4 linked regions of the Homo sapiens genome follow. The protein of the gene in region 3 interacts with the protein of the main gene of each other region in a biochemical or structural test. Each region holds a gene or a part of one and is shown on either strand. Other genes may lie near its edges.

Region 1 (7,313 bases), on a different chromosome or scaffold from region 3:
AATAACTGGGGAATGATTTCTAGCATATTCAAACAAATGTCCCAGATGCTAACCAGTGATTCAGGACATGAAAGGTGTGAGATCTGTTAGAGAAGGACTTGTAGATGAAGGGAGTCAGGGGTCCATTACCCTTCCTGATATAACACGGGCATGAAGAATCACAAGTCAGAATAGTAAAACAAAAAGAATAATCAGGATTTTACTGAAGCACAGTCTGACTGGAACAGGTAAGTATGTTGAAAAGGAGTTTGAAAAAACATTGAAAAAATCATCCAAAGAAGGGCATGAGAATGCTTGGCTAAAAGAATAATGATTACCTGTAGCTACTATTTCAAACAATCCATAATCGTGAACATTACTGCTATCACAAACTGCTTTTCAGGCTAAGTGCGGTGGCTCATGCCTGTAATCCCAGTACTTTCAGAGGCTGAGGCGGGTGATCGCTTGAGCCCAAGAGTTCAAGACCAGCCTGGCCAACATGGCAAAACCCTGTCTGCACTAAAAATACAAAAATTAGCCGGGCATGGTGGTGCACATTTATAGTCCCAGCTACTCAGGAGGCTGAGGCAGGAGAATCACTTGAACCTGGGAGGCAGAGGTTGCAGTGAGCCGAGACTGCGCCACTGCACTCCAGACTGGGCAACAGAACGAAACTCTGTCTCAAAACAAAAACAAAACAAAACTGCTTTTCTTATTGCTTTTGTACATCTGCTTCAGAAAGCTAAATTTAGCATATAGAGGTGTCACTTGCCAGCCAGGTCAGTTTCAGCAGTGTACTATTTTTGCTGTTTGGTAGTATATGCACGATTATGTAAATATTTTCATTTACTTTATAAAAGTGAGTGAAAAGAGGAAAAAGAAAACATGTGGACAAAAAACTCAGTCTCCACTTTAAAAGATGGCAATCACTGGCCAGGCTTGGTGGCTCACGCCTGTAATCCCAGCACTTTGGGAGGCCAAGGTGGACAGATCACCTGAGGTCAAGAGTTCAAGACAAGCCTAGGCCAACATGATGAAACCCCTTCTTTACTAAAGTACAAAAATTAGCCGGGCATGGTGGCGGGCACCTGTAATCCCAGCTACTCAGGAGCCTAAGGCAGGAGAATTGTTTGAACCCAGGAGGCGGAGGTTGCAGTGAGCCGAAATCGCGCAGCTGCACTCCAGCCTGGACAAGAGCGAGACTCCGTCTCAAAAAAAAAAAAAAAAAGATGGCAATCACCAAGCATGTCCCAGCTGGGATGCTTTTGGCCTTATCTGCATGCTGACTGTACTTAAGCTGCCAATGCTGTGTTCAATTGTGTATAAAACTTCTGCAAATATGTCATCAGAGACTGGGAAGAAGACTCCTCTTATTACACGCAGGCCTATTGTTGGACTTACACTCTAGAATTCTGGGACAGGAGTGTTGTGTATGGGTTGAACCATTGGTAGTCTGAGTTTGAATCCTGCCTCTACCGGTTATTACACCCTTGAATGTCAGCTTATTTTACTTTTTTTAATTTTTGAGATGGAGTTTCACTCTTGTCGCCCAGGCTGGAGTGAGTGCGGTGGTGCAATCTCGGCTCACTGCAACCTCTGTCTCCCAGGTTCAAGTGATTCTCCTGCCTCAGTCTCCCAAGTAGTTGGGATTACAGGCACCTGCCACCACGCCCAGCTAATCTTTTTTTTTTTTTTTGTATTTTTAGTACACCATGTTGGCCAGGCTAGTCTTGAACTCCTGACCTCAGGTGATCCACCCGCCTCAGCCTCCCAAAGTGCTGGGATTACAAGTGTGAGCCACCGCGCCTGGCCAAATGTCAGTTTATTTGTAAATTGGGGGTAATAGTTGTACCTAGGCTCAAAAGGTTGTTGTAAAAATTAAATGAGAGAATACATTTTTAACACTTGGAGTAAATAATTCCTAGCGGAAAGTAACTAATCAGGCCAGATGTATATTTTATTGCATTCAACTGATCATCTGTGCATCACCTCTCAATGTCAGACTCCTTATCCCTAAAAGAAGGTTAATAGAAAAGCACATATTTTGGCTGGGTGCAGTGGCTCACGCTTGTAATCCCAGCACTTTGGGAGGCCGAGGCAGGTTCAAGGAGTTCAAGACTAGCCTGGCCAACATGGTGAAAACCTGTCTCTACTAAAAATACAGAAATTAGCCAGAAATGGTGGTGGGTGCCTGTAATCCCAGCTATTTGGGAGGCTGAGGCAGGAGAATCGCTTGAACTGGGGAGGCAGGGGTTGTAGTGAACCAAGATTGCGCCACTGTGTTCCAGCCTGGGTGACAAGAGCGAGACTCCATCTCAAAAAAAAAAAAAAAACGAAAGAAACAAAAATGCATATTCCTGGATAACTGATAACTTGTGGATTTTTAATCAATTATTTTCTTATTTATAGAGGTCCAAGAAAGGACAATGCTAAAACTTGAGTTTAAGCTACTACTAATGTTCATCTTTAGTCTGATAAATAACTTGTTCAGACTACTCTATAAAGATAGATATAAAAATAGAAATATAAAATAAAATGGCAATGTATTGAAGAATCCGGCTTAAACTGCTGTGGCTTCAGCTACTGCTTCATGAATAACTACTAATATAAATAGCTACCATTTATAGGGTGCTTTACATTAAGTATCTCATTTAATCCTCCTAACCTCTGAAGTAGTTACCGTTAATATTCCCAGTTAAGAGGAGAGAAAAACTCAAGCATGATGGCTCACATCTATAATCCTAGCACTTTGGGAGACAGAGGTGGGCAGATCACTTGAGGTCAGGAGTTCGAGACCAGCCTGGCCAACATGGGGAAACCTCGTCTCTACTAAAAATACAAAAAATTAGCTGGGTGTGGTGGTATGCGCCTGTAATCCCAGCTACTCAGGAGGCTGAGGCAGGAGAATTGTGTGAACTCAGGAGGTGGAGGTTGCAGTGAGCTGAGATCGTGCCATTGCACTCCAGTCCAGGTGACACTGTGAGACTCTGTCTCAAAAAAAAACAAAAAAACTCAAGCATGAAGTGATCACTTGTGCAACGTCACATGACTACTGAGTACTGGGTAAGGAACTGAATCCAGGTCCAGGTCCAAGCCACAAAATCCATACTTTTAACCACTATCCTATATTATCTCTAAATTAATGACCATCACAGTAGCTAAAACACGAATTGCCAAATCAACCCCATTATTGTACTAATTCCTTTACTGTTCTCAAATATACCCCATATTGACAGCAATAAAGTTTTCCATTGACTAATTTATCCACCCAACTCTAAAGAGACTCATTAGGTATCCAGCAGATTTCTTCAGTCATTTTGAATTCTGTGTCAAAATTCTACTTAGAAATTTCCAAATCTCAAGGCCTCATTTAAAAAAAAAAAAAAAGAAATATCCAAATCTCCACAACAAATTTCCTTTTGTAATCGGAAAAAAGTCTTATTTAAAAAAATCCAACTTAGCTTCACTTTGAAAAGCACACAAAAATTATTTTAAATTGCGATTTTTAACTTGCCTGCCACTCAAACCATATAAATATCCGAAAAATGATAACAGAGAGTAGGAATGTGGAAGAAAAAAGAAAATAGACCAAAAGCTGGACATTTAGTTTAAGAACAAGGAATTGGACTTAGATCACAAATTATATTTTAAAAAAATCTGTCTGAAACACTTTACAGAGTAAAGGCAGTATATGCAAAATAACATTTTCTTTTTTGAAATATGATACTACTGCTGTCTTTTAGGCTAATTTCAATTCACAGACAGTCCCTGGCTTATGAGGGTTCAACTTCCGATATTTCAACTTTACAACGATGAGAAAGTGATATGTGTTCAGTAGAAACCCTACTTCAAATTTTGAATTTTGATTTTTTCCCGAGCTAGCAATACGCCAGGTGATCCTCTCTCACGATGCTGCGCAGCGGCAGCAAGCCGCAGCTCCCAGTCAGCCACACCATCCTAGTCAGCCACACGATCAGCCACAGATCAGGGTAAACAACCAATACGCTACAGGGTACTGTGCTGCCAGATGATTTTGCGCAACTGTTGGCTAATTTAAGTCTTCTAAGCATGTTTAAGGCAAGAGAGGCTAAGCTACTTAAGCTATTAAGTTCAGTAGAGTAGGTGTGTTAAGTGAATTTTCATTTTATGGTATTTTCAACTTAGGATGAGTTTCTCAGGACATAACCCCATCTTAATTCAAGGGGTATCTGTAGTCACTTGAGACAACAAATGAGTCAGGATTTCATTCTTTAAAAATCCTCTTTAAAGTGTAAAAATTTTTATTAACATATACATTTCTAATTAGGTAAACTTATTAAGGGTAAACGTGTTATAAACTGAGTCATAGCTATAGTTGGTTTTGTTGTTAAACACTCAATAATACTGAAGGTAATACTATCCCTGCCCTTCACGTATGTGGACATGCGTATACATAACATGTATTGGTGAATTTCTTTAAAAAAATCTTTTTTTTTTTTTTTGAGACAGAGTTTCTCTCTTGTTGCCCAGGCTGGAGTGCAGTGGCACGATCTCGGCTCACCGCAACCCCTGCCTCCTGGGTTCAAGCGATTCTCCTGCCTCAGCCTCCCGAGTAGCTGGGATTACAGGCACCCGCCACCACGCCCAGCTAATTTTTTGTAATCCCAGCACTTTGGGAGGGCAAGGTGGGTGGATCGCCTGAGGTCAGGAGTTCAAGACCAGCCTGGCCAACATGGTGAAACCCCGTCTCTACTAAAAATACAAAAATTACCCAGGCGTGGTGGCGTCTGCCTGTAATCCCAGTTACTAGGGAGGCTGAGGCAGGAGAGTCGCTTGAACCTGGGAGGCAGAGGTTTCAGCGAGCTGGGAACTCGCCACTGCACTCCAGCCTGGGCAACAGAGTGAGACTCTGTCTCAAAAAAAAAAAAAAAAAAAGTTATTACTTTCCTGATCCTAGAATTATATGTAACTTGTTTTGAGAATGTTACTCCAAGAAATTCAGATACATATGAGCATGTGACTTAAAAAAAATCGCAAAAATAAAATATACCACTTCATCTCAGTAATAACACCATTTCTGAAATTAATATAATGATGCTTAAAGGTCTAACTGAAGCGTTCTGCTTCCATTCTTGAAAAAAACAGAGAACACATGTTCTCTAAAATTTTCATGGTGCTTTAAAAGTTCCTTTACTTTGAAATTCCACTTACTTCCAACATTGCTTCGGTTAAAAAAAAAAAAAAAAAAAAGGAAAGAAATCCCACTACGCTTTCACAAAGTAAAACAAACAAACAAACAAAAGTCTGAGAGGTTATTTCAATGGTGGTACATGTTTCCCTAAATTAAGAAAATGCAAAATGAATTTTCTATAAACAAGGCTGCTCCTCTAGCACTGACATGGCACAAGCAAAGTAAGAAAGTAAGCCACATTCTCACATCTCTGAATGTCCATTTAAGTCTCACTCCTTTTATCTTCACCCCCGCCTTTCCATGTGAGGATTCCAACTCTTAATGTAAATTAGGGTACAGACTTAAGCCAGGATATGTAATCTGGAAAAGTATAAATCTGATTAATGCTTCTGTGGGGCGGGTAGAAGGCTCAACTGAAAGAGTAATGGGCGGGGCACGGTGGCTCACGCCTGTAATCCCAGCACTCTGGGAAGCTGAGGCGGGCGATCACCTGAGGTCGGGAGTTCGAGACCAGCCTGACCAACATGGAGAAACCCTGTCTCTGCTAAAAATACAAAATTAGCTGGGCGTGGTGGCGCATGCCTGTAATCCCAGCTACTTGGGGAGTCTGGAGAGTCTGAGTTAAGGAGAATTGCTTGAACCTGGGAGGTGGAGGTTGCAGTGAACTGAGATAGCGCCATTGCACTCCAGCCTGGGCAATAAGAGCGAAACTGTCTCAAAAAAAAGAAAAAAAAGAGTGATGGTAGTGCTTTTGTTAGTCACAATCTATTAAGCATCAACAACTCAAATGTTCTCTTCCTTCTATATTCCCTACTGGTAAAGGGAACCTAGCTTCTGCAGCCAGAAGTTGGAGAGTCATCCCAGGCACTGCCTTATGTTCATTCTCCAGCCACCCAGCCCCTCAGTCATCGGGTACATTCTGCTTTTCCAGGGATTGTTCCTTTGGTGTTCACTCTTGCTACCTTAATGTGAGATTGTCATCTCTTACCCAGACCATTTTAAAAGTTATAGTTAGGGGTCCCTGAGAGCTTATATCCTTCTGATCCATTCACTACACTGTTGCCAGAGTGATCATTCCAAACACAAATCTTATTTTATGTTACTCCCAGACATAAAGCACCAGTAGCTTTTCACTACAGAATCAAGTGCAGGCTTTTCAGTATGAATAAGATTTCTACAGTCAAGCCCCTGCTTATCTTTCCAGTCTTGCTCCCTGTTGTGCCAAACAGAAGCCCTCTGTGCTCCTGTTGCTATTCCCTGGCTGGGCCAGCTCACTGTGTACTGTTTGAAATGCCCTCCCTATGTCGGTCTGGTGATCACCTGTTTATCTCTTAAGGTCTCACTTAATGAAGCCTCTCCTGACCCTTCTCCTGTGGAGTCAATCACAGGCTCTTGCCTTTAGGGGAAATCTATTTGCAATTAAACTTGTTGTAGATTTGCTGTTGGCTTTTGAAAATAAGAGTATATAAGCCGGGCATGGTGGCTCACACCTGTAATCCCAGCACTTTGGGAGGTCAAGGAGGGTGTATCACCTGAGGTTGGGAGTTCGAGACCAGCCTGATCAACATGCAAAAACCCCGTCTCTACTAAAAATACAAAAATTAGCTGGGTGTGGTGGCGCATGCCTGTAATCCCAGCTATTTGGGAGGCTGAGGCAGGAGAATCGCTTGAACCCGGTAGGCAGAGTTTTCAGTGAGCCAAGATTGCGCCATTGCACTCCAGCCTGGGCAATAAGAACAAAACTCTGTCTCAAAAAAAAAAAAAAGAGTATATAAGACAAAAGAGAGATAATCCCTCATTGACCACCAATAAGCATTGAGATAATGAAGTGAATGCTTTTATTTTCATTTATTTAAGGGTTAAAGTAGGCAGAAACTCTAGGTCCAGGCCTATACTGCGGACTGCTCAGTGAAGGGCCAGGAACTCTGGTTTTAAGAAAATAAAATATGGAAGCCACAGAGCCTCTATTGCTGAGTACACACAGTCAGTCTACATCATTTTAAGAGGGAACATTATGCTGTTTGCCTATTTTCTTTTGTGGGAGTGAGGAGACTTCACTCTAGGATTTGGGTGGTCAGATGTTTTTCCCTCTGTGAATCAGCCCGGAAAGCAGTCTGAATACTCCCGCGTCCAGACATCAGGAGTTCCATTTTGTGAACAAGGT
Region 2 (8,004 bases), on a different chromosome or scaffold from region 3:
CGCACGCAGCCCTATTTTCTCCATTTTTATACACTTTTAGCTTTAAAAAAATGGTATAATAAAGCCCTACTACCGTCATCAGATTTCAATGGCTTCCTACTGTGAAATGCAAAAACAAATCAGAGAAAAGCCTAACCATTTTTAATCTATAAAGGATAAGATTAGGTACAATTACTTACTTTCTTTTAAAAAAAAGAACTGAACAATTTGTGAATGTGTCTTTCAGCCATTTACAACAGACTGCTGGGTTTTTTTTTGTTTGTTTTTCGTTTTTTTTTTAAACAGGGTCTTGCTCTGTTGCCCAGACTGAAGTGCAGTGGCACGATCATGGCTCACTGCTGCCCCGACCCTCTTGACTCAAGCAATCCTCCCACCTCAGCCTCCCGAGTAGCTGGGACTACACACCACCATGCCTGGCTAATTTTTGTAATTTTTGTAGAGATAGGGTTTTGCTATGTTGCCCAGGCTCGTCTCGAACTCCTGGGCTCAAACAATCGCCCCACCTTGGCCTCCCAAAGTGCTGGGATTACAGGTATGGGCCATTGTGCCTGGTCCACGACTAGTCTTTTTAAGATACTGACACCACTGGAGAGGAGAATGCCCACTCCAACTACATATTGGCTGTTAAAGCATCAAAGTGGAATGGTGGCTTGAGGGAAAATCATTAAAATGGAAAGGGCTAATTCTACTTCATAAAGTAAAAAAACTATTTAGATTTAGGTTCTTACATATATTTTAAAAAGGTAGGGTATTCTAGTGAAAAGTCATGAGCTATGGAGACAGAGGACTGGAGATTTATTATATTATAGATATAAGCCTGAGCACGTTACTCAAGTTGCCTGAATTTCAATTTGTTTATCAGTAAAAGTCAATCATTTAACACAAATTTATTAAGTAACAAGCAATATTCTAGGTATTGGACATACAGCAGTGAACAAATCCTTGTCAGGATGTTCCAAGCTCTGTGGTAAGAGGTACACAGAAATATACAGGGAAAAAAAAAAAAACAAATTTTATAATACAGTATGTCAAACGGTGATGCACATTATAGGGAAAAATAATGCAGGAAGGTTTCAAAGCATGGTCAGGGAAGGTCGCAATGAAAAAGAACACTTGGACAAAGACATGAAGGAAATGAGGAAGCCTGTAAATATCAGGGTTCCTCAAAAAGGAACAGCATGAGCAAAGAGGCCCTGAGATAGGAACCTGCCTGGCTTTTTGAAGACTAAGAGAGCCAGTACAGCTGATGCAGAGTCACAGAAGGGAAGGAGAGTAGTGGGAAAAATGAGGTCAAGAAAAGGTGGCTAAGGGCAGCTGGGTCAAGGTCCTGTGGGACAACCAGGCTACCGTAATGGCTGTGGCTTTTCCTCTGAATAAGATTAGAAGCCCCTGGAAAGTCTAGAATATCAGAGGTGTTTCACCCATGTATGAGAGTAAACATTTACCTCATAGAATTCTTTTGGGAAGACCAAATGCAATATGGAAGGGTTTTTAAAACTAGAAAATAATGTACAAATGTGAAACATTATTATATCCCTAATTTTGTATGTGTCATTTTTATATCAGACAACTTTGTTAAATTCTTCTTCTGCACTAAACAGTGGTAAATATTTCATAGGTTTTTTTCAATGGAAGAAAAAACAATGGTTTTTCTAGGAGCAACTCTCTCCATTTCTATTCCACTATATCTAAGAACATATGAAACTCAGTTTTTTGCTTTCAAATCAAACCATAAAACAAACATTTCAACATGAAATAAAGATGCACAATGTGAAAAACAATCTCACCCTTATTCAAAGGAGCAATGGCAGTCATGAAATGATATGTTCTTAATGAGTGTTTTCCTTTGAACTGCTAGAATGGAAATAGGAGTCTCTAGTGTTAGATAAGAGACTTTGTTATCTTGTTATCACAAGGACCAGCCAAACCAAATTTCTACCTAGTCAAACGTCTCAATTATTGGCATATATAAAATATATACAGAACAAATTTTCACTATGAAGTAAAAACAAATGAAGTATGTTGAAAATAGTAAAAATTATTGAACTAGGTAAATGACTCTTATGATACTAAACAGCCCATCATCAAGTCACTGTTTAGAGACAATGACTGCAACTGACAGCCCTGTTAACTTGTGAAGAAAAACAGTATCCAACTGAAATAACACTGGAAATGGAAACTTAAGTTATCTCCCCCAAGTTCTAGCCTCTTTTTTGGTCTGCTTCTCTTTTTTGTCTTTTTTATTTTACTTCGTCATTTCATAAAATGTGTGATTACCACTACTGCTATATGAAAATAATTCATATTCCCATCACCAATTTCTACCCTAAACTTCAGTGCCACGTTGCCAGTTGTTGACTGGATACTACCAGCAACAAATAATCCCATTTAATTTTTACTAAGCCCAACAGTTCTAAGTACTCTAACTTTGTGTATAAACTCCTCTCTCCATCTTAAACCACCCTCTGAGGACGGCCTTATTATTACCCCCATCTCACACTGGAAAGTTAAATAAGTAGCTCAAAGTAGCACATTGGGTAAGAAAAGGAACCAGCACTTGGACCCCAGGCATTTTTGCTCCAGAACGGATGCATTTAATCCCTGCTGCACCGCAACAGTGCTCCAGCTCTGTACCTAACTCCAATAGATACAAAACAAAACTCATCGTCTACTCTCTCCTAGTTCTTATTGTCCTACTTCAAGTGGAAAGCAACTTAAATTTCAGTCACCCGGCCTCTCTTCCTCCTCCCACAGGCAGTCAGTCCCTGAGGTAGCCGGGCCTGCCTTCATGCCAAAATTTCCCTGGGCAAAGGCCACAGGGATGGGGCCCGAGGAAAGGCAGCCCGAACGCGGGGGTGTGTCAGAGCGCTTTCCCTAGGTGCCCTCCCGGGGCTGGCATCCTCTCTGCTCCCCGAAACCAACTTTCGCCATCCCACCCCGCCCTGCCGCGGACCTGCCTTGCGCTATTCCAGCAGCTCCGCACCTCCACCCACTCCACTCCACCCTCCCCAAACAGCCCACCCTAGTCTCTATATCCCTGTGCCCTCAACTACCACCTGCACCCTTTACCTGCTCCTCTGCTTCCGCCATGGCGCCACGGGAGAGTCACCTGACAGACCCGGAAATAAGAGGAAACCACACACTTGGCCCAGGGCCTTCTGGGAAATGTAGTTTTAGCTTCATCTGAGCCTGGAAATCTCTTCTAGGGGACGGACCTGCTAGGGTTCATTTCTGCTGCCAATTCTCCAAACTCAATGGAATTCTGCTTTGAAGGATGTGAACATAACCATTGCTAATACTATAGCTTATTTTATTGTTGTTCTTGTTTCTCTAGTTATTCTAGTGTTTATTAAGCACTTACTATGTCATGCCCTGGGTTTATAGCTTTGCATAAATTATCTCATTTAATCCTCACAGCAATTCCTACTATCATCCCCATTTATAGGGGAGAATACCGTAGCTCAGAGGTCATGCAGCTAGTAAGAGGCAGAACTAGTAATAGAATTCAGCCCTGCCTGATGCCAAAGTCTCTGTGATTGCCAAATGCTGCTTACTCTAAAAGTGTTCTTGTCCTTTTTTCTCTCTCTTTTTTAAGTATATTCAGTGAATATAAAGCAGTCTTTGCAGTGGAGAGTCAGAGAAAATTTATACGCCAACAAATAATATCATTATTTTTGCTTGCTACTTTGTCTTCTCCTGTCATATGAACATTGATTTAAAAAAAATCTCTGTTGTTTAATAAATTAATTGTTAAACTTTTGTTGAGGATATTCAATAGGTAAATGTTCAAGTGAAGACACAATATGAAGTTGTCCTTGGTCAAAATCTGCACAACCACTGTATTACTTCCAGCCTTCAGAATGACTGATTCCTTCTCCATGTTTCTGAACATTATGAATTCTGTTTCTTAACCCTCAGGAATCTGCAGCACCTTGTCCAAAGACAGACATTTTACAATTTCCATTCACTGGAGTAGCTGGTGACCAGCAGAGGGCATTGCAAATGGCAGCATGTGGTGATTGCCTCAGTACCTTTTTTGACTCCCTGTGCCTCATTGACTCTGACCCAGTAGGAAGTCATGGACTCAGTACTCTGTCTGTAGCTTGCTCAACCCATGATTCCTCAATGGCCCAGAAGCCAAGGTGACATCATCTCTGAGACACCTGTCTTCTCCCCAGGGCCTAAACAGCCTTACCTCCATCTTCTTCCTCCAAGCCTTGCTGGGGTTCCTCTTCCAGTGGGCTAATCACTCAGCCGACAGGATAGACCACCCTGAGGCATTTAAATGTCTATAAGCAGCCAGGTGCAGTGGCTTTCACCTGTAATCCCAGCACTTTGGGAGGCCAAGGCAGTCAGATTTCATGAGCTCAAGAGTTTGAGACCATCCTGGACAACATGGCAAAACCCTGTCTCTACAAAAAATACCAAAAATTAGCCGGGCATAATGGTGTGCGCCTGTAGTTCCAGCTACTCAGGAGGCTGAGGTGGGGGTTAAGGCTGCAGTGAGCATTGATGGTGCCACTGCACTCCAGCCTGGGCAACAGAGTGAGACCCTATCTGAAAAAAAAGAAAAAAGAAAAAAGAAATCCATAAGCAAGCACCCAATGCCCTAAGTATAAACCTAGGGCAAGTATAAACCTAACCCAAGAGTTTCTAAAATCTCTTGCAAAGCAGCCCAGGGCCAAACATTGCTCATGATGAACTCCAGATCCCAGAAAAACTTTAATACAGACCAAAGAGACTGTGGAAGCCCTCAGTCGAGTATCCACGGGAAAGAGAAATAAAATGAGCTCTTCCACTTTTCTGACTTTCCTCACAAACTCCAATTTTCTCTTTTCTGTTATGAGTGACAGCCACCCATAAACCTCTAGGACTACAGCCTCTCCAACTGGGCAATCTCCTCTTCTATGCTGAATGGATGAGATTGGGATGAAGAAGGAAAATAAGGGATTATTACCACTGTCTTAACCACAAGGTCATTTTTGTTTTATGGTTCCATTTTATTTTGGTGAGAAGTCAAGCAGCCCAAGCAAGCAAAGCTGAAGGCCATCCACTCTGGGCCTTCCTGGCCTTTCTACTTTTCTGGAATGAGAATGTTTATTCTCTTTCTCAAGAAGGGTGTTATGGGTCTTATTAAAGATATAGCCAGACTTTATAGGTTTTCCTCTGCTCATTTAACCGTAGAAACTCTCAATTCCCCAAGTTTGTTCCGCATTCAGTATACTCTCTTGATTACAATAAAGTATTATGAGCCTCTTTCCTTTTGGAGAGACTGGAAAAGTGAAGAGACACAGGTATGGAAAGGTGAATTAGAGGAAGAAACCTACTATGAACTAGCAGGTTCGTGCTGGGACAGTGGACAGGATGAAATTCACATGTGACCTCCAAATCCCATTTGCTCATGTGAAGTGAGAGTTTGAGGCTCTCTTATCTAGGTGGTCTTGTATTCTCCAACTACTCTAAGTGTAGTCCAAAGACTACCTGGGAGCTTGTTAAAAATGAAGAATTTGGGGCCCTTTGAGAGATGTATTTAACCACAATCTGGATTTTAATAGTATCCCTCAGTCATATGCATATACTTTCAAGTTTGAGGAGTAGTCAGCCTAACAGTCACTGATTCTGTGTCAAATCACCTGCTCAGTCCACCCTCTCCCAACTTCAAGATACGGAGGTAAAGGGCTGGGCGCAGTGACTCACGCCTGTAATCCCAGCACTTTGGGAGGCCAAGGCGGGCGGATCCCCTGAGGTCAAGAGATCGAGACCATCCTGGTCAACATAGTGAAACCCCGTCTCTACTAAAAATACAAAAATTAGCCAGGCGTGGTGGTGTGCGCCTGTAATCCCAGCTACTCGGGAGGCTGAGGCAGGAGAATCGCTTGAACTCGGGAGGCGGAGGTTGCAGTGAGCCAAGATCACACTACTACACTACAGCCTGGTGACAGAGCAAGACTCTGTCTCAAAAAACAAAAACAAAAACAAAAACTAAAACTAAAACAAAAATGCAGATGGAGGTAAAGGTAAGATTCAACTTCTCATTCTCAGTCTATAGGACCTAAAATTGTTAATAGACTTCAGAAAACAGACCTAAGACCTTATATTTGTAGAGTGGCTCACTGGTTTCAAGGATCTGTCTCATATGTTTGTTTCGTAGGTCTGAAACAGTTTACTAACTCAAATTATAGCCATTTTATTCGTGACAATAGCATTATTTCATTGCTTAAACAATATGAACGGCTTTAATATTTTCCATTATTAAATAGCATTTATAAATTCAGGAAACTTGAAAAATCGGCAAAGTGGACAAAGTTAAAATAATTCACTCTTATGCCCTTGCTAATTAGGGGATGTGTTGTAGATTCTTTTCCCAATCTTCAGCTTCCATTCCTTCTTAGATTGCTACCTTTCTCAATCTACAGGTGTGACAGCTAATGACAAGCAAATTTACACCACATTACACTACTAATTCCAAGCTACAATCTTAGCCTTTATTTAATTAACTGTACCAAATAGCTAAAAGAATATTGATGTTATCTTTAGCAAATTTGGCCAGCCTCAGCTTATTTTGCAGTTTAGTTTTTCCAAAACTGTACCTACTGAAACCTGTTACCTTCTAATATTCTAAATGTCATTTTAAGATATAGCTTATTGGAAATTTCCCTGAGCAACCACATTAGATTTTCTTAATAACATTTTTCTAATTACAAAAGTACTATGTGTTCATAATAGATAACTGGAAAAATACAATAAATTATAAAATAAAATTCTAAAACCACTCATGATTTCTCCACTTAGATTATGATTGTTGGATATATGCCTTTCTTTTTTCTTCTCTTTTTTCTCTCTCTTCCTCCTTTCCCCTCTCTGTCTCTCTGTATTTATTTAAAAACTTGTCCAACAAAGATCATATTACCAAGTTTTGTCATTTTTTTTTACTTAGTCATATTTCAAGATTGTTTCCCAATAACAATCTTGTAAAATATTCTTCTAAAACATGATTTTAATAAAACATGATTTCACATTATAATTCCATCGTATGAAAAGTAATGTATATAATCATTCTATTTTGTTGTATACTTTAAGTACATCTAATTAACATCCCTGTGCATAATTCTGGAAAATGCTATAATGCAAGGTGGTATCAACTGCAGGAATAAAGATCATCCAAATGAGAAATGCCATTGAGGAGTTATTCAGAGCTTACTCTAGAAAGGGAGTCAGCCACCAGCACTTGCGCTGTGGCAGAGACTCAAACACAGGCACAAGAGTGGGAAGGTAGGAAAAGGGAAGGCTTCAGGTAGGCCCTGGTTGGAGGCTGCTGGCATGAGAAAGCTGCAGGTGGGGTAACCAGAAGTGGGGCAACCTATGTGATTGGTAGGGGTGGATATTTGGTTTTCTCTGGTTGCTCTTAGTTGGAAGTGGGAGTAAAAATTAAGGAAGTTGTCAACTACCAATAAAGTCCTGGTCATTTTAGGCTGATTGTTTCAGAGGTTATAGTTAAGGTTCCTGGATTGTTACTAGAGATGGCAGTTTTGACTGTCAGGCTAGATTCCTGGGTTTTCTATTGTGGACAATGGCTTGGTTTCCTGGGCAATTGCTGCAGCTTGCTTCAGACTGTGGGTCAGAGTTCTATTTTAATATCTGGTCTGGCCAGTGCCCCTTTATATATTCAGTCTCTCACAATTTATTCTACAGTGAGCTATATATGAGAGCTCTAAACCCTCCTACCATCAAACATTAGATATTATCATTTTTTACACATTTCATTAATTTAGCTTGGGGAAAATAGTATTAATATTTTAATTTTTGTTTTAACTGTATGTCTTTGATTTCTGATGAGGGGATGTTTTTCATAAATTTACTGGCCATTTTCAACTTTGTTCTGTCCTTTCTACTCTTGCTCTTTACCCATCTTTTGTGGGAAAGTTGATCTTTTCCCTATTTGGCTTGTAAAAGAAATGTTCAGTAGATATTTGGTTATTTGGTTTGAAGCTAGGAGGAGTCTGG
Region 3 (7,313 bases):
ATCACTTTGTTCAATTTTACTCATTAGTTTTATTACTATACTGAAGAAATCATCGTAGCAATCCTAAAATGTTAGGATTCACTTCTCTGATAGGCCAACTTTTATCTACCTAAAAAAAATGGCTATGATCATTAGGAATAACATAACAAGTGGGCAAAATATGGTAATTTAGAAGCAAATTATTAAAATAGCATATTCAAGACATACATTTTTTCAATTAGCTGTTTCTCATCCAAGGCATTAGGAAGATCTCTCTTGTTTCCAAGCACTAGCACCTTTAAAAAGAAAAGATATTAAGAGCACACGTTTATGCAAGAAAAAGTCACAGAAGTTTATCATCTTGATATGTGAAGACACAAAGTTAAGATGTTAACACATTCCACAATGTTAAGGCCTATTTGTGTAACTGGTGGCTTGTCTCATTCATTTCATTGCTCACACTTGTATTCACTCAACTCCCACCATGCAGGTGCTCTTAATTCAGTATGTGGCTGCCAACTGCTATGTAAAATAGTCTGAGTCTATGATACACATTCTGCTATTCTTTTTGTTTGTTTGTTTGTTTGTTTGTTTGTTTGAGACAGAGTCTCGCTCTGTCACCCAGGCTGGAGTGCAGCAGCCACTGGGCTCACTGCAAGCTCTGCCTCCCGGGTTCACGCCATTCTCCTGCCGTAGCTGGGACTACAGGCGCCCACCACCACGCCCAGCTGATTTTTTGTAGTAGAGACGGGGTTTCACCGCGTTAGCCAGGATGGTCTCGATCTCCTGACCTGGTGATCCGCCCATCTCGGCCTCCCAAAGTGCTGGGATTACAGGCATGAGCCACCGCGCCCGGCGGCATTCTGCTATTCTTAGTACAGGTTTACTATCCCTTATCCAAAATACCTGGGACCAGAAGTGTTTCGAATTTTGGAAATTTTTTGGATTTGCATTATATACTTACTGGTTGAGCATTCCTAATCCAAATGCAAATTCCTAAATGTATTCTAGAGACTGGCCTCTTCTCAGTTTCCCACTTCCTCCCACCCAAAGGCCTTTGCCTGGAACTCTCTTCCCCTCCAACTGTCATATACCTCACATTTGTATGTATCCCTTGGATCTCAGCTCAACCATTACTTCCTCGTGAATCCCTCCTTCTTCCCTCAAACTAGATCACATCTCCCCTCTAAATTACAACTCTCATATCCCCTTGCACCTTTCTTCCTAGCACTTAAAGCTGCATTATTCAAGTGTTTTCAGAGTATCTACCTTTCCCACTAAACCATAAGGTCCATGATGGCAAGGAGTATGTTTCTACTGATTTCCATTCATCACTATATCCCTGGGCCTACGCACTGCTCCTGCTGCATAGTAGTTTAGTAGATACGTGGTTATGAGATTCATATTTAGCACAATGCCCAGTATATGGCAGATACATGGTAAGCAAGTTTTCCAGATTTTAAAAATGAAGACATGTTACTGATTTCAAACATAATTAATATCACTGCATAATTACCATAATTAATATCATTATATAATTACAATGTAAAATAACAAGTATTCCATACTTACTGGAATTCCTTGTAACTGTGGTTTATCTAGAAGATTATGTAGCTCATTTCGGGAAGCTTCTATCTTTTCACGATCTGCAGCATCTATCATGTAACTTAAAAAAATGAAGTGATCTCAACATACCTTCTCTGTATGCCTTGATGATGACAACTAGTATTATTGATTTTTAATTTTTGTAAGATTTACATTATTGAAATTATTAACCAAAATAAACTATGTCATAAGAAAAGGCTCAGCACCCTTTAATACTTTTTAACTAGACTGTTTTTAGAGACTAATACATGATAGTAAAACATGTACACCCCTTAGCTCTTAGCTCCATAAACAAAAAACATAAAGATCTTATTCTATGATTAATTTTTTTTAAATCCCATGTTGGGAATTACACTAGGATATTAGCTAAGAAAGATTTTCACTGCCTGAGATAAAAATTGAGCCTCTGGAAATACTAAAATAAACTTTCTTCTTTGATGCCTACATTGATTTAAAAGCAAACAAACAAAAAAAAACCACTTACACAATAGCATTGACTCCTCTGCAATACCGCTCCCACATGCTTCGAAATCGGGGTTGTCCTCCTATGTCCCAGATCTTTAAATCAAAACAAGGCAATTCTTAATAAAGATATTTTAATTAAATGATTGCAAGAGGAAGTAACAGAAAAAAAGAAAGATCGGGAAGATATATTTATTTCTACAATGTTAGAGGCAAAGTGCTCCTGAAAGACTTGACCTCAAACAAGCTCTTAATATGGGAATTCTTGGGGCCACTTCTAAACTTGAAGTCCGTATTTAATACATTTACAATACATCTAAAATTTTGCTTAAGCAAAGATTTGGTTTATGTGCAATAGTTTGCCTGTTAACTAATATACTTCTATTATTGAAAACATATGTCTTTATGATAACAATTTAAAAGCTACAGGACCATGCACCATCCAGATTTGAATGCCAAGACAGAAAACAACAATTCAGAATCTATTAAGTCTTAATCGTCTGATTTGTTCTACATTAATGCCTAACCTTTTGAAATTATCCTGTAAATAAGTAGCCAACATTTCCACATAGGTGTTTTTCTTGTATAAAATTATTTTGGTCAGGCATGGTGGCTCACACCTATAATCCCAGCACTTTGGGAGGCCGAGGCGGGTGGATCACTTGGGGTCAGGAGTTCGAGACCAGCCTGGCCAACACAGTGAAACCTCATCTCTACTAAAAATACAAAAAATTAGCCAGGTGTGGTGGCAGGTGCCTGTAATATACTCGGGAGGCTGAGGCAGGAGAACCACTTGAACCTGGGAGTCGGAGGTTGCAGTGAGCCGAGATCACACCATTGCACTCCAAGCCTGGGCAACAAGAGTGAAACTCCATCTCAAAAAAATAAAATAAAATAAAATTATTTTATGCACATGAAAGCCACATCCATAATCATTTTATTATTGTGTCTACTCCGTAGGGCATCACACTAGACACTGGGCTACATTAAAGTCTCAAGTCACAGTATTAATCTTCAAGAGGCTTCCGGTTTAACTAAAGCACTGGTAACAAGCATAAAGAAACCTGCACTTGACTAAATCTGGAACTTCATTAGATGAGCCACAGAGAAAGTGAACAGCTTCTGTAAACCACAATAATTGGGCAAAATGGACATTAAGGCTCAGGCCATAGATTTGATTTTTGAAAAACAAAATAGATTAAAAATCTATTCTTGGCCAGGCGTGGTGGCTCACGCCTGGAATCCCAGCACTTTGGGGAGGCCGTAGCAGGCAGATCATTTGAGGTTAGGAGTTGAGACGAGCCTAACCAACATGGTGAAACCCTGTCTCTACTAAAAGTACAAAAAATTAGCTGGGTGTGGTGGCACAAGCCTGTCATCTTAGCTATTTTGGAGGCTGAGGCAGGAGAATCACTTGAACCGGGAGGTAGAGGTTGCAGTGAGTGGAGATCGCGACACTGCACTCCAGCCTGGGTGAAAGAGCAAAACTCTGTTTCCAAAAAAAAAACAAAAAAACAACAACAAAAAAACCTATTCTTTTGAAACATGCACATTCATTACTGAAAAACTGCAAATTTTCAGTAAAAACACAGAAATTTAACAGAAAAATTTCTAGGGGTCTGTGCTAACAATTTAAATTGCGTACGGCAAGAAATAACTTACCTTTATTGTGACGTTACCTTTAGTTACCTTCCTCATGTTGAAGCCCACTGTGGGTATCATATCTTCACTGAATTGACCTGACTGAACAAAATAAAACATTTGAAGTTAGGCTACTCACTTATAATGACACTGCATAAACTTCTAATATCAACATTGCATTTGTAACCATTTTAGTAAATATTTTTTTACCATTGGTAACAATCTACTTTAAGAACATGTTCCTTATGGCCATAATTCTTGAAGAGATGCATTATTTTGTCCCAACAAAGATATATTCTTCCATCTAAAAAAGATATTTTTGAAACTAATGTAATTTTTTACATATTTCCTTATGCTAAAAGAATTTTATATGACAAATACATACGAAAATTTTTAAATGTGTTCACCTAGATGTACATTTCCACAAAGTAGATGAGATCAGAAATAAAACTTTCAGCATTTAAATTATTCTGACAGTAACTATTAAAATTCACTGCTAAACAGCATTTCCAAGTCTGTCTTTTAATAAGGCTTATAAAATATTTTGTCATACAGAAGTTTTTCCTTTTATGTAATCAATTTTGTTCTCTTTTTGGTTACTTATCTCAATGTCATGAGTATTGTCTGCTATGGCCTTATGCTAGCCACATACACATGTATTCCAAAATTGTCTTAAATCTTGAGCACAACGAATTCCAACTGTACAAATAACTTCCTATACAGAACTCGAATTGTGCCTCTTTTAACTGTTCAGTGGAGTTTTATTAACTTCAGAAAAAATGTTAACACAGCCATAGTCACTACTTTCACTTATATAAGACATTATAATTCTCAGGACTTTCACATATGTGATTATATGTGAAAATCTAGTCATTCTATCTAAACTAGTTATATCAAAAGTAAGCCATGATAAAAGATAAATGGCCAATGAACTCATGAAAAGACGTTCGACTCACTAATCATTAGGGAAATGCAAATCAAACCCACAAAGAGATACCACCTAACATCCAGTAGGATGGCTACTATTAAGAGGAAAAGAAAAAAAACAGAAAGCACTGGAAAGAATGCAGAGAAATAGGAACTCTTGTATACTGCTGGCAGGAAGGCAAAATGGTATAGCTGCTATGAAAAATGGTATAGCAGTTCCTGAAAAACCTAAAAATAGAATTATCATATGATCCAGCAATTCAACTTCTGAATATACACTCAAAAGAAATGAAGACATTTTGCTAAATGAAATGAGCCAGAAGTCTCACACACTCACACACACACACACACACACACACACACACACACACAAACACTGTATTTCACTTTATGAGGTACCTAAAATAGTCAAATTCATAAAGACAGAAGATATTAATTTGCTTAATGGGTATGGAGTTTCAGTTTGAAAAGATAACAAATTTCTAGAAGTGGACAGTGGTGATGGTTACACAATGTGAATGTACTTAACACTACTGAATTGCACACTTAAAAATGACTAAGATGATACTTTGTGTTTTATGTATTTTACCAAAATTTTTAAAAAACTAGTCATCATACAGGGAGGGACAATTATCATTATCATTTCATAGAACAGGTAGTAGAGTCCCAAGGTCACATGGCTAAATCGTGATTATATTTTTCTTAAATATTTTCATTGTAATTATATTTATTGTGATAGGCTTTAATCTCTGAGGAGAGATCTACGTGAGATAATGCTCATTTATTTCATATCATTAAGTGTTTTACATAATGAAGAGGCAGGAAAAATAGTAGCTAAAATTTTTAGGTACCAAACTTTACAACTAGCTTGCATGGAAAGCTTTCTAAAAGGCAATATACACTTGGCTAACTTCCCACAAACAACCTATAGAACATGATTTAATGTGTTCTCAATGTTTCTGGGTCAGTTTATCTATTGCAAAACAAGAAAACTAAATTAGATAACACTCAAGGGCCCTCCCTATTGGAGGTAAAGTTTTATGATTATGAACATCAACTACAGCACTTCATAATAAAATAATGTAGGGGGCTGCAGTATACTGGGGTACCCCCGAGCTTTCTCAGGGGTTCATTTATCTCTTTTCTTTACCTTGGCCAACCCTAACAACTTTCCTGTAACTCAGCTGCTACTGCTAACATGCAAAAACCGAAAATTAGCTAATCAAGTCCTTGAGTTTTTACTCCAAAATTCTTGAGTAGAGCAAGATATTCAATAAATATTTGTTGAACAAACTAAGAGTTATTAGGGCCAGGCATAGTGGCTCAAGCTTGTAATTCCAGCACTTTGGGAGGCTGAGACAGGCAGGTTGCTGCGGCCCAGGAGTTCAAGACTAGCCTGGGTGACACGGCAAAACCTTCTCTCTACAAATACAAAAATTAGCCAGGCATGGTTATATGCACCTGTAGTCCCAGCTACTAGGGAGGCTGAGGTGGGAGGATTGCTTGAGCCTGGGAGGTGGAGGTTGAGATCTTAAGAACGATATGACTTTAAGACAAGATTGTGCCACTGTACTCCAGCCTAGACAATAGAGTGAGAGCATGTCTCAAAAAAAACATAGGCCATGAAGGAGGAAAATGCTGGAACTCTTCTGCCAATAAAGTGCTTAACTTTGATGCATGAATTTTGTGCAATAATTACTTTATGGACCTGGAAGTATTTTCTACTTCTTTCCTAGTGTCCAATCTTAATCATCACTTTTCAAAGCTTGTGTTGAACAACTATAACCACTCAGTTGGCAACTGGGCACTAGATACCTGAGAATTTATGTCTGAGCTGTCAAGAAGCTGCTTAATTAAGACTACAGGTTTGGGAAACAGATGTTTAGAAAATACTACTTAGTAGTATATCATTCTACTTATTTTAACAAATTTAACAAACACGTAATACTAAGCACTTAACATTCATCAGCATAGTTTAATCCTTATAACAACCCAATGAAATGAGTAGCATTATCTTCATTTCTCAGATGAGAAAAACAAGGCAAAGTCAGCTTAAGTCACTTGCCTAAAGTCACATTGTTCTTAAGATCTGGATAATTATGAGTTAATCTGACTTGGGGGGGAAAGAGTAGAAAAATAAAAGTAAGTAGTCCCTCCTTATCCTTGGGGGATACGTTCCAAGAACCCCAGTGGATGCCTGACATCACAGATAGAACCTAACCCTATGTACACTATGTTTTTCCCAATACATACATACCTATGATAAAGCTTAATTTATAAATTAGGCACAGTACTCTTCTGCTTTAGAGTCATTATTATTTCAGAGGTTGATCATAGGTAACTGAAACTGGAAAGCAAAACCATGGATAAGAGGGACTACTGTATGCTTTCATGCCTGCCTTCTTAAATGCCATGATCACACGTGGCACTCGCTGTGATTCTGTGATGGCAGATGGAGCTGTCACTGTCATAATGCTTACCCTCCTATAAGCCAAAGTTGCAAGGCAGTGTACCTGGAACTTGGTTGAACAAAATAAATCTGAAGCAAAATAAGATGGTGAAAAGAAGATTATTCTCAAAGTCAGGGAATCTTATTAACAATTATGCTACTTACTAACTAGATGCAAGTCATGTGACCTTGGGATTCAGCTTCCTTATCTAGAAAAAGGAAATTGGAAGAGTATCTCCAGTCACTTCCA
Region 4 (7,313 bases), on a different chromosome or scaffold from region 3:
CAGGCAGATCACCTGAGGTCAGGAGTTCGAGACCAACCTGGCCAACATGGTGAAACCCTATCTCTACTAAAAAAAAAAGTACAAAAATTAGCCGGGCTTGGTGGTACGCACCTGTAATCCCAGCTACTCAGGAGGCTGAGGCAGGAGAATTGCTTGAACATAAGAGGCGGAGTTTGCAGTGAGCCGAGACCATTCCACTGCAGTCCAGCCTGGGCAACAGAACGAGACTATCTCAAAAAATAATAATTAACTCAATTTAAGGAAAGTATTAATAACTACCACTCAATCTAGCAAAATGGTGACCATGGCTTACAAAGAGATGAAATTTGGGGAACTGCTGGGTAGAGCCATGAGGCTGGTCCCAAAGGTCACCGGGATTTGAAGCCATCAGGTAGGACAGGAGCAGAGGTGGGAAAGGAAATGGGCCAAGGGCGGCTCGCTCTGCAGCGACACAAGAAAAACAGGATGGGAGAAAGACAGTGACACCACTTCAGCCAGGGCCAGGCCCAAGGCTGACTCATTCTCTTTCCCCACTGATCTGCCTACACAAGCAATGAGGACAGGCAGGACTTTCAGAGGGAGCAGTTTAGGAGCAGAGATTGAATGTGAGCAGCACTCTTGCTGGATGATATTTTTTCAATGGTAGAAGCTAAAGGAAATGCTGCGGAATATTTTGAATACTTGTTTTAAAATGTTGTCCCGGTCGGGTGCAGTGGCTCATGCCTGTAATCCCAGCACTTTGGAAGACCGAGGTGGGTGAATCACCTGATGTTGGGAGTTTGAGACCAGCCTGACCAACATGGAGAAACCCCGTCTCTACTAAAAATACAAAATTAGCCAGGCATGGTGGCGTAGGCGTGTAATCCCAGCTATTCAGGAGGCTGAGGCAGGAGAATCTCTTGAACCTGGGGGGTGGAGGTTGCTGTGAGCCAAGATCGCCGCATTGCACTTCAGCTAGGGCAACAAGAGCAAAACTTTGTCTCAAAAAAAAAAAGAAAAGAAAAGTTTTCCCATGTGGGGTCTGGTATGTGATTGTATTGTCCATAGGTGTCCTGTTTGGTTTTGGGGGATTTTTTTTTAAGGTAATAAGCGAACATGATTTTTAAAAATCAAACCATACAAAAGAACATTCGGACAGGCATGGTGGCTCATGCCTGTAATCCCAGCACTTTGGGAGGCCGAGGCGGGCGGATCATTTGAGGTCAGGAGTTTGAGACCAGCCTGGCCAACATGGTGAAACCCCGTCTCCACTAAAAGTACAAAAATTAGATGGGCGTGGTGGCGCACGCCTGTAATCCCAGCTGCTCGGGAGGCTGAGGCAGGAAAATTGCTTGAAACCAGGAGGCAGAAGTTGCAGTGAGCCAAGATCACGCCACTGCACTCCAGCCTGGGTGACGAGCAAAATTCTGTCTCAAAAAAAAAAAAGGACAAATACTAAATCCTCCTTCCCAGAAATTTTCCCCAGTACTATTGTATCTTTGAGAGTTTCCGCACATAGCACATGTGCTTTCCTCTCTCAACACTGGCTGTTTTCACGCAAGCAATAGGATGTACCCACAAGGAATGTATCTTGCTTTTTAGAGTAATGCTTCCTAAAGGATGAGTAACAAACATGCGTGTTTTAAGAATTAACATGCTGGCGGGGTGCAGGTGGCTCATGCCTGTAATCCCAGTACTTTGAAAGGCCAACGAGAGAGGATTGCTTGAGCCCAGGAGTCTGATACTGGCCTGGCAATTTATTTGGCAATTCAGTAGGTGTAGAACTTCACGATATTCTCTGTGTCATGTTGAACTATTATTAATGAAGCTTAGAGATGTGAATAGTTTGGCCAAGGTCACAAAGCCAGTAAAATTGAGAGATAGAACCGCTAAAAGATCGTTCCAGGTTTAATTTTCCATGCCTCTAACTTGAGTGCTAATGGGTACAGGTAACCCCATAGTAGGGGATGCATGAGATGGCAAAACACTGCCAGCAGCACTTCCAGAGACAGCACCACCCAGCGCTGATTGCCTGGAACACTGGTCTTAACATTTTTTGCTCATGTAACCCCCTAAGAAAACTCCCAACTTTTTTTTTTTTTTTTTTTTTTTTTGAGCCGGCGTTTTGCTCGTCACCCAGGCTGGAGTGCAATGGCGTGATCTCGGGTCACGGCAACCTCCGCCTCCCAGGTTCAAGCGATTCTCCTGCCTCAGCCTCCCAAGCAGCTGGGATTACAAGCATGCACCACCACGCCCAGGTAATTTTTTGGATTTTTTTTTTTTTTTAATTGATCATTCTTGGGTGTTTCTCAATTTTTTGGATTTTTAGTAGAGACAGGGTTTCACCATGTTGGCCAGGCTGGTCTCAAACTCCTGACCTCAAGTGACCTGCTCACCTCAAGTGATCTGCCCACCTCGGCCTCCCAAAGTGCTGGGATTACAGGCATGAGACACTGCTCCCAGCCGAAAACTTAACTTTTAAAGTTAACGTATAAGATTATTCATCATATTTTAAAGTTGCTCAGAATTCATTTTCTGGCATAGTGTAAATATTGACTTTTTAAAATAAAACTGTTACATTGTTTTTTGAAATGTATCAAGTGGTATGTAAATACCTTAATGAATTGATAATTACCACCATCCATCTTTAAAATAGCAAGTTATTTAATATTTGAAAATTTTACATTTTCCCTTTTATTCATTGAACTTGGATTTCCATTCCACTTCTGCCATAGAATTAATGTAATAGATTTGTATGTTTTTAAAAGTGTTATTGGTCATCTTATAAGTCTCAGCAAAAAGTATGTAAATAAGTTAAAGTTTAATAAATTTTTATTGTGACTGAAGCTCTAAGTGTATAAAAATTTTTCTTCTGGAGTGAATTATCATTAAGTTTATTAGTAATGCTACATTGGTAACAGGAACATAAATATAATTTTTATAAAGAATTATACATAAATTTTTCTTGAATTGCGTTTTTTTTTTTTGAGAAGGGTCTCACTCTGTTGCCCAGCCTGGAATGCAGTGGCGCAATCTCGGCTCACTGCAACCTCCGCCTCCCGAGTTCAAGTGATCCTCCCACCTCAGCCTCCCCAGTAGCTGGGACTACAGGTGCACGCCAGCACGCCCAGCTAAGTTTTGTATTTTTAGTAGAGACGGGTTTTACCATGTTGGCCAGGCTGATCTCGAACTCCTGACCTCAGGTGATCTGCCTGCCTCAGCCTCCCAAAGTGCTGGGATTACAGGCGTGAGCCACCACGCCCAGCCAATGAATTGCATCTCTAAATGAGATGAATGGTGTTGGTTTTTGTCATTAGCATATATCTGTAGATGAATATATATGATTTACTGCTAAAGCGTGATAGAATTCAGCATCAGTTTTAGTCCTGTTTTTTGTTTGTTTGTTTTAGTAATGTTGGTCATCTTTGAACTCTTTCCAAGTTATATGCCCCAAATCACACTGATCTAAAGCCAAAAATTATTTTTTGTTCCCTTATTTTCATTCAAAGCAAATAATTGAAAATTACCTGACCTGCAACCTAATCATATTAAGAAAATTTCTCAACTGTTGGGAGTTACCAAAACAAAAGTTTTACCAAGACTTATCAAGTGTGAGCCAGGCACGGTGGCTCATGCCTGTAATCCCAGCACTTTGAGAGGCTGAGGCAGGTGGATGGCCTGAGGTCAGGAGTTCGAGACCAGCCTGGCCAACATAGTAAAACCCCGTCTCTACTAAAAATACAAAAAATTACCTGGGCATGGTGGCGGGCACCTGTAATCCCAGCTACTGGGGAGGCTGAGGCAGGAGAATCTCTTGAACCCAGGAGGCGGAGGTTGCAGTGAGCCAAGATCGTGCCATTGCACTCCAGCCTGGACAACAAGAGCAAAACTCCATCTCAAAAGAAAAAAAGACTTATCAAGGGATAATTTCACTTCTTATTCTTTCACTTAGGCACTTTGTTTAACCCAGAATACTCAGAATGGTTGGAGACATCTGAGTATTGCTTATTTCATTCACCTTTGCCAATACAGTACTTTTTGACAAAAATACTTTTAGTTTATCATGTATTTCAAATCCATTTTCATCAAATACTTAGCTGCAGTTTGGGCTCATTTAATTTACGGAAAATGGCCATCAAGCTAATGGCACATCTTAGGGTTGTGAATATTGACTGGTTGAACATAATTACATAGATTTGTAGGGAGAAAAATTTAATTTTCTAAATTTAGGACACCCAAGCAGAGGGTTAGAGACCACCCCTCTGCCCCAAGACCAAGCTTAACTGAATACCATAAAGCAGTAAAAGGCTGGTCTTCATGTTTTTGATTACTTAATCATCAAGGGCGACACCACCTCCATTTGGTGTATGGAACCTAGGGCACCCCAGGTCACCGTATCAAGAGGAAGACAGGTTATGGAGTGAGTTGCCCTTCTTTAGAGGGAGGAGAAAGAGTGCCTGTGAAACTTGAAAATCTGGAAATTGAGTTCCTTAAAACATCTGGGCATACCTAGCTTTGGCAAGACTGCTGTATATGTATTCCAATTTCAAGACCACTAGATGATAGAACTGGGCTTGGTGTCTTCTTTAAAGATAAATCTTTACAAATTGCTTTTATGGTTATTGCTGTCTTCAGAGTTTCTCCCTTCTCTTGATGAAGTTTTACAAGTTTTATTTCCTTTGCCAATCATCCATTACAGTTTTAAAATTTATAAATATAATACATAGGCTTCTCTCGAAATATAAAAATAATTATACTGGCCAGACATGGTGGCTCACGCCTGTAATCCTAGCACTTTGGGATGCCAAGGCGGGCGGATCACCTGAGGTTGGAAGTTCGAGACCAGCCTGACCAAAATGGAGAAACCCCGTCTCTACTAAAAATACAAAATTAGCCAGGCGTGGTGGCGCATGCCTGTAATCCCAGCTACTCGGGAGTCTGAAACAAGAGAATTGCTTGAGCTCAGGAGGCGAAGGTTGCAGTGAGCCGAGATGGCGCCATTGCACTCCAGCTTGGGCAACAAGAGTGAAACAACATCTCAAAAAAAAAAAAAAATTATACCACCCCCAACGAAATGCTTTACTTAAGCCACTTTTAACCCTCTCCACAACCAAGGTGAAATGCTTAGGCTGTTTCTTCTTGCCCAGCAGCTCTCCCCCTACCTTCTTGGGTTTTGCTGAGATAATTTTGAATTTTTAGTCCCAGGATGTCTCAGTATTTATTTAAGACCTTTACTACAAGTTCACGGCCATAATATTATCGTTCAGATTTAACTGTAATTAACTATATAAAAATATAGTACGTATAAATATGCTCTTTAATTGTCCATATTAATCAATGCTGGTGAAATAAAACAGGTAAAGGATTAGTATCCAAAATATACAGGTCAGTAAGACAAAGGCAAGCAATTCAACACGAAAGTCAATTGAGCAAGCAATTCACAGAAGAAATACTAGCAGAGAATAAACAGAAGTTATTTAACCTCAGTAGTAATTGGACAGCTGCAAACCAAAAACAATACGATCCCCCGCCCCCATTCCAATTGGCAAATATTTCCAAGACAATGTAAACGCGCGCGCGCGCCCGGGTGAGGGCCGCGCTTCGCACCTGGGACTTTCCTGCCAGGACTCTTACTTTGGGATCTAAACTTTTAGTTTCTAGGATACCAGCTTACTGGGTTTCAGAGAGCATTTGGCCAGCACGTATAGATATCTGATGATAATTGCACACAGTCTTTATTACACCCTCAAGGCAATGCGACAAGATAATGGGAGTTGAAATGGAACTCTCTGAATTCATTTGACTCCAACGGTTTTCCTTACCAAAAAACAAAGTGTGCGTAAAACCTAAAATTGTCCACTAGTAGCGGACGAAAGATCGGCAACAAGAATTTGAGCCTGGAGCTGAGGGGAAGATGCTTCCCTGCAGGCACCCGGCTGGCACTATCCGGCAAGAGAGAAGGCTGGAAAAGCCTTCTGGGCGGGGTGCGCATCCTCCTCCGTCCGGGACAGAGGGTGCAAAATGGCGCCCACCAGCTCCGTAGGAGAGGCCTTGAGCTGGACTCGCCCAATAGGAATGTTTGGGGGCGGGACGCTTTCCCAGCACGCCCTCTAAGAGCTTGGGGCAGGGCTTCCTGTAGGTAGCGCCCTTCCATTGGTCAAAAATGGAACCGGGGTTGCGGGAGAAGCCAAACGCGGCGAGTCTTGCTAAAGCCGTCGCCGTAGCAACGCGCGGAGCCGTCTGGGAGAGGCCTCTGGAGCAGGAGGCCCAGTGGCTCTTCTGACCCAAGGCCCCGCCGTCCAGGTAGGGGGCTGTGGCCTCTAGGGATCAGGGACTACTTACCTGCGAATCCCGGTTGCCCGCCCGCCAGCACGTCCGTTCCCTAAGCAGACCGCCTGGCCTCCTGCCTGACCCGTCTTCTCACCGTTGCCCGGAGTCTGACCTCCCCACGCTCAGTCCACTAACGAAGCTATCCCTGCTCCTGCCCCACAGCTTCTAAGTGCCAGATGATGGAGGAGCGTGCCAACCTGATGCACATGATGAAACTCAGCATCAAGGTGTTGCTCCAGTCGGCTCTGAGCCTGGGCCGCAGCCTGGATGCGGACCATGCCCCCTTGCAGCAGTTCTTTGTAGTGATGGAGCACTGCCTCAAACATGGGCTGAAAGGTGAGCCTGAGGGGGCGTTTGGGAGCGTGGAAGTTCGGGCTGGGTGTTTGCTCAGCATTTTTTCATCAGCGCCAGACATCCTTCTAGATGCTGAAATGCCAGCAGTGTACAGAACAGGCAAGGTTCCTGTATTCAGAAGCGACGTCCTAGAGCAGCGCTGGCCAATAGAAATAGCATGCAAGCTATATAGGCAATTTTAAAGTTTCTGGTAGCCAGGTTACTTTAAAAGCGTTAGATGAGGCTGGGCGCGGTGGCTCACGCCTGTAATCCCAGCACTTTGGGAGGCCAAGGCGGGCGGATCACGAGGTCAGGATATCGAGACCATCCTGGCTAACACGGTGAAACCCGGTCTCTACTAAAAAAAAAAAATACAAAAAATTAGCTGGGCGTGGTAGCGGGCGCCTGTAGTCCCAGCTACTCGGGAGGCTGAGGCAGGAGAATGGCGTGATCCCGGGAGGCGGAGGTTGCAGTGAGCTGAGATCGCGCCACTGCACTCCAGCTTGGGCAACAGAGCAAGACTCCGTCTCAAAAAAAAAAAAAAAAAAGAAAAAAGAAAAAAAAGTGTTAGATGAGATGCCTTTCTGTGGGGATAAAACTTTTAAAAATTAAGAAAAAAAAGTTAACCTAATTTGCTAAAATGTTTTAAAATTAGTGTTAATAATATATTT

What was found.
Region 1: the proteins of ARL8B (region 3) and RUFY3 form a complex in vitro, tested with the Homo sapiens proteins (one study listed by BioGRID).
Region 2: the proteins of ARL8B (region 3) and VPS41 form a complex in vitro, tested with the Homo sapiens proteins (one study listed by BioGRID).
Region 4: the proteins of ARL8B (region 3) and RUFY1 form a complex in vitro, tested with the Homo sapiens proteins (one study listed by BioGRID).

The regions. Positions count from the first base shown.
Region 1 is NC_000004.12:70,724,935-70,732,247, reverse strand, and holds part of RUFY3 (protein RUFY3), read right to left. Parts: intron 1-7,313. UniProt on the Homo sapiens protein: ARL8 effector that promotes the coupling of endolysosomes to dynein-dynactin for retrograde transport along microtubules. Acts by binding both GTP-bound ARL8 and dynein-dynactin.
Region 2 is NC_000007.14:38,906,085-38,914,088, forward strand, and holds the start of VPS41 (vacuolar protein sorting-associated protein 41 homolog), read right to left. Parts: upstream 3,108-8,004; 5' UTR 3,091-3,107; coding exon 3,070-3,090; intron 1-3,069. UniProt on the Homo sapiens protein: Plays a role in vesicle-mediated protein trafficking to lysosomal compartments including the endocytic membrane transport and autophagic pathways. Acts as a component of the HOPS endosomal tethering complex.
Region 3 is NC_000003.12:5,166,979-5,174,291, reverse strand, and holds part of ARL8B (ADP-ribosylation factor-like protein 8B), read right to left. Parts: intron 3,790-7,313; coding exon 3,709-3,789; intron 2,143-3,708; coding exon 2,069-2,142; intron 1,646-2,068; coding exon 1,552-1,645; intron 276-1,551; coding exon 208-275; intron 1-207. UniProt on the Homo sapiens protein: Small GTPase which cycles between active GTP-bound and inactive GDP-bound states.
Region 4 is NC_000005.10:179,553,554-179,560,866, forward strand, and holds part of RUFY1 (RUN and FYVE domain-containing protein 1), read left to right. Parts: intron 1-2,100; exon of another isoform or gene 2,101-2,237; intron 2,238-6,177; exon of another isoform or gene 6,178-6,471; coding exon 6,472-6,645; intron 6,646-7,313. UniProt on the Homo sapiens protein: Activating adapter involved in cargo sorting from early/recycling endosomes. Regulates retrieval of proteins from endosomes to the trans-Golgi network through interaction with the dynein-dynactin complex.